Linked DNA regions of Homo sapiens: region 2 is linked to region 1. The links come from fine-mapping of genetic effects on gene expression. Tissue or cell type: whole blood. Region 1 holds a variant in brackets; the other region holds the start of a gene. All regions are shown on one strand. Distances are between the middles of the regions.

What was found. PIP is the estimated chance that this variant, and not a neighbour inherited with it, causes the effect.
Region 2: it holds the start of SSPN, and the variant in region 1 is fine-mapped to the expression of SSPN in whole blood (INTERVAL, PIP 0.96).

The regions. Positions count from the first base shown.
Region 1 is chr12:26,135,680-26,138,535 of GRCh38, reverse strand. It overlaps a transcript of SSPN not described here. Among named protein-coding and RNA genes, the nearest start is that of BHLHE41, 12 kb to the right of the region's middle. The variant G/C (reference allele first, on the strand shown) is at 1,411.
Region 2 is chr12:26,194,257-26,196,932 of GRCh38, reverse strand. SSPN (sarcospan) reads right to left here and starts at 1,360. Exons shown (of 3, transcript NM_005086.5): 1 at 982-1,360. The coding sequence starts at 1,260.

The DNA of each region.
Region 1 (2,856 bases):
CACATGCGGCTAGCACTACCACATTGGACAGGCCAGATTATAGAATATTTCTTTCACTGCAAAAAGTTCTGTTGGATAGCCCCTATCTAGAAAATGCCTTGCACATAGAAGATACTCTATTATTGTTAACTCAGTGATCAAATTTTACCCTATTTTGGAAAGGTGAAAAGTTTAACAAAATCAAAAATTTGTTTTTCAGGAGAAAATAAACCACCAAAATGATTGCATATTTGGATATCTTTAAATACAGTTGGCCCTCTGTATCCACAGGTTCTACATCCACAGATTCAACCAATCGTGGATCAAAAATATGTGAAACGAAATAAATAAATAACAATACAAATTTAAAAATTCAGTGTTTATATAGTGTTTATGTCATATTAGGTATTATAAGTAATCTAGAGATGATTTCAAATATACGGGAGGATGTGCATAGGTTATAAGCAAATGCTATGCTTTATTTACATGGGACTTGAACATCCACAGATTTTAGTATCATGGGGTCGGGGGAGGTCCTGGAACCAGTCCCCTGTGGATACTGAGGGACAACTGTTAATATTCAACATAGTAGGCCAGACGCGGTGACTCATGCCTATAATCCCAGCACTTTGGGAGGCTGAGGTGGGTAGGTCACTTGAGGACAGGAGTTCGAGACCAGCCTGGCCAACAGGGTGAAACCCGTCTCTACTAAAATACAAAAAAATTAGCCGGGCGTGGTGGTGGGGCCCCTGTAATCCCAGCTACTCGGGAGGCTGAGGTAGGAGAATCGCTTGAAAAGAGGAGGTGGCAGTTGCAATGAGCCAAGATTGCACCACTGTACTCCAGCCTAGGCAACAGAGCAAGACTCCATCTCAAAAAAAAAAAAAAAAAAAAAAAAAATATATATATATATATATATACATACACACACACACACATATATATGTATATGTGTATATATATATTCAAGGTAGTGACATATTTATTGGACATCTTCTATGTGTCAGAAATACTAGTCACCTCACAACAGGCATATAAGATCCTCATTCTATAAGTGCGGACACTGAGGTTTAGGGAAGTTCCAAACTTTGCCTCTCCCAACTAGGCAAACAGGTATTCGTAAAGCTTAACCTTATGCTCACAGTTTCAGACCCCAAAGCCATGCTCTTTCTGGCATAATGAAGCCTCGCTTCTCTAAACAAAAATCATGGAGGTAAATAGAAATGCTGAATTTTTGTCTGGGTTTTTGGGAGGCCATTGTGCACACAGGCAGTCAAGATTATGGGCAATGACTCTGCAGCCGCAGTGTTTTCTTCAAATCCTGGCTCTGCCATTTACTATTTGTGTGACATGGACAAATTACTTAACCTGTGCCGCAGTTTTTTCCTTTTCAGAATGGCATTATCACACTATCTATATCAAAGGGTTGTT[G/C]AGCAATTAAATGAGTTAAGACTTGCAAAACAGTAAAAGAGAGCATGGCACAGAGTAACTGCCATAAAAGTCTTGCTTTTATTAGTAGAATGGCTGAAATAAAGAAGAAATAAGTCAAGATGCCTCCCATGGCCAGCTAACAAAGTTTGAAACTTAATTCACCCATGTCATTCATTTAAGACCTGACCAAGGCTTTAACTTACGACAAAGCATGGACTAACAGGATTTCCCCCAATTTGCACATAAATGTGGAACTATGTGACAGCTCTCAGAGGAGCTGTCTAAATAGCATGATTTAAAAGGATAAGGTTGTGACCAGTACTGCCTATTTCCAAGTAGCACACGAAGTACCATGGACTCTTAACTATATCTCATTAATGGAAAATCACGTTGACAGGTCTGGCCTTCTGTTTTATTGTTATTCACCCATTACTAGAGGAAAGAGTAATGGAAAGCAATAGGTTTACCTCTTGAACTTAAAATGTTACTCAATTCATCAATTATTTTCATACACCCATATTTTCTATGACACTCATAATTTTAACCAAGCAGCTCAAATGGGAAAAATAATAGCTATCATTTATTGCTCACCTACTAGGATGGGGGTGTTCTCTGCGCATTGTCATGGACACGCAATAAACAGAGGGAGGTACTGCTATTTCTCTGTAGTTACATTTGAGATAACCGACTCATTCATAATTTGTCCAAGGTCACACAGCTACTCAGGGGAAAACAGCATTTAAACTCAGGTCCTCTTGATCTTAAAGCCTAAGTCCATACCAACTCTGCCACCATACACAGCAACATGAAACACACTTATCCCTTGGTATCTGCAGGGTATTGGTACCAGGACCTCCGGTGGATACCAAAATCCTTGGGTGCTCAAGTCCCCTGATATAAAATGGCATAGTCTTTTACACATAGCCTACACACGTCATCCCATACACTTTAAAACATCTCTAGATTACTTATGACACCTAATACAATGTAAGTGCTATATAAATAAACTGTATTGTTTAGAGAATAATGACAAGGGGAAAATGTCTGTACATGTTCAGTACAGACACAATTTATTTTCAAATATTTATATCCTAAGGTTGGTTGAATCCATGGATGGGAGCCCACAGATATGGAGGGTGGACTGTAATATGAAACAAGGACAGAAATATGAGATATGTCTATTTCATTACCTTTGGTATGTCTGAAGCAGAATTTCTAAAACAGAATAAAAAGCCTAGGAAAAATCAGTAGTGCCATTATCCAATGACAAAATTGACTCAGAATTGTATCTCAGCTGGATCACCACTGGCAATGCAGGAATGTTGAGCAGGTGTGAACTCAGACCCAGGCCTGCTGATGGCTTGTGGTCACCGGGGCTATATTTGGCAAACGTAGTTTGATTTTGCAAGAAGCCCTTGACCAGAAAAATCAAAACTTTCTTTTTGA
Region 2 (2,676 bases), 58 kb before region 1:
ACATAATATTAAAGTTACAAACCAAATGTGGTGGCAGTGTGGTTCAATGAGGAAAACGCAGATATAGTCTAGCATAAAGAGGAATCAGCATGGCTGAATGCTTTACCCACTCATGACCCTGGGTGAGTCTGGCCTGGGTTCCCTCATTTGAGAAGTGAGAATGATTAAAACGATCCCATCAGGACGATGTGGGGATTAGAAATAATATGTGTCAGGCCTCTAGCAGGGCGAGCACACAGTAGGTATTCAGTAAGTGGCACCCGTTTTACATTAAAGAATTCATTTAATCAAGCCAAGTATGCTACATGTTTCAACACTCACAACAGCTGAGTACTGTTCAACTTAGAACAGTACATCCATCGGTGGAGTCCCAAATATACTTCTGCCATGGCCAGCGCCCTGGGTTTATCCCACTTTAGACTCCAGTGGATTAAGGCTGTGCTTGCTGTATTCGCATTTCCTGCCTTAGCCCATCATTTCAGGAAACTTACTAATGGAGCCTCAGTTTAAAACATAAAATGAATGCTACTCAATGTGGCAACTCCAAGTACAGGCTTTCTCCTCTCCTGCTTTCACTAGATGAACTTAATTCACTTTTTGCCACTTGTTTAAGGACAGGGGTGGGGTCTGGGTAACAGGATAAGGAAAAAGCCCGAATGAATCCGCTGTTGTTATTGAGGCTGTTCAGTCTGACCAAAATAAGCAGCTTTTGAAATGAACTCCCCAGCTCCAGAGCGTCAGAGTCAGGCCCCGTGGAGGCGCTGGGAGCCGCGAGCAGGAGAGGGGCAGGAGCCCTATCGCGTCCAGCCCTGCCCCGCCCGGGAAAACCCAGTGCCCCACGCATCAGTCACCGAGCAGAGCGCGAGTTAGAAGAGTGAACCCGGGGAAGGGCACATGCAGCTGGGTTAGTCTCAACTCGACCATGCGACTTCGCATTCCTGTTTGGCAAACGCGCTTAGGCAAAACAGACTTGATGCTTACAATGATCCCAGCCCAAAATGGAGTGTCCCTGACTAGCAGGGAGGAGCTGATGCTCGCCATGAGGAAGCCCACCACGGTCACGGCGATGCCCAGGGCCAGCTGCAGCAGGGCGAGCAGCAGCGGGAACCGGCAGCCGCAGCAGGTCCGGGGCTCCTCCTCCCCGCACTCCTTGGGGGCCCCCGTGCCCTTCTTCGGCTCCATGTCGTCGGGCCCAGCGGCGTCCGCGGCCGGCGGGCCCCCCTGCCTCTGCTGGCCGCGTGGCTGCTTGTTCTTGCCCATGGCGCTGCGAGGCTGGGTGGGTGGGTGGGTGCGTGTGCGGCGCCCTGGGCCCTGGAGCGCGGCGCACGGCTGGCTCGGCCTGCCCTGGTATTCGAATTATGGAGGCTGAACAAATATGGAAAACATTTGGAGCCGACTCACCGAGCCTCCAAAGGCCACGGGGAGCCCGCAGCAGAGGGGGGATTCGAGGGGGGTCGCCAACTGCCAACGCGCCGGGACGCAGCGCCTGCCGGGCCCCGGGCAGGATTTGCAGGTCGCCCGCGGAAACCGGCGCGGGTCCCTTGGCCGCCTGAACCTCTGCACTTCAGACAGGCTGCGAGTGCGCGCGTGTGCGAGTGCGGGGCGTCTGTTTTCCTCACTCAAAACTCCAGGATTGTTTTGGTTTTGCTTTCTGTGAAGTGCAATGCAAGGTGATGAATGTTGAAATCGTTTGAGCTTAATTAATACACAGTTTAATCCAAAATAGGCACTGCTGGGCTCTAAGCTGCGAAGTCATTTCCAGAAGTTAAGTCGTTGTTACTTTCCTACAGAGGCACAGGCTCTTTTCTTCCTACTTTCTGTAATCCAGCTGACAAATGAATAAAGGCATTTTTCGCATTTAGGTGTTTTTGAATCTTTCTAAAGATATTGGACTAATTGTGAACTCTCTTTCACATATGTTATTAATTATTATTATTATTTTCCAAACAGGGGCTCACTGTGTTGCCCAGGCTGGAGTGCATTGTCACCATCCTAGCTCACTGCAGCCTCAGACTCCTGGACTCAACAGCTTCTCTCTCCTCAGTCTCCAAGTGGCTGGGACTACAGGCAATCACCACCACATCTGGCTAATTTTTTAAAATTTTTTTCATAGAGATGGGATCTCATTATGTTGTCCAAACTGGTCTTGAACTCCTGGCTTCAAGGGATCCTGCTGCTTCAGCTTCCCAAAGTGCTGGAATTACAGGCGTGAGCCACCATGCACCCGGCCTCTCACGTGTATTTGTTTTTAAAAGCTCTGTTGGCTCACGCCTGTAATCCCAACACTTTGGGAGGCCGAGGTGGGCGGATCACAAGGTCAGGAGTTCAAGACTAGCCTGGCCAACATGGTGAAACCCCGTCTCCACTAAAACTACAAAAATTAGACAGGCGTGGTGGCACGCACCTGTAGTCTCAGCTACTCGGGAGGCTGAGGCAGGAGAATCGCTTGAACCTGGGAGGCAGAGGTTGTAGTGAGCCGTGATCATGGCACTGCACTCCAGCCTGGGCGACAGAGCAAGACTCCTAGTTAGTCTTCACTCATCTCCACAACAGTGCTTAGGGGGATTGGATTGACCATCTTAGAGATAGACGCTTTTACTCAGTCAATATTTAAGAGTTATTTTTAAAGCACCTACAATGTGCTAGGATATAAAGATGTTCAAAATAGACTTGGTC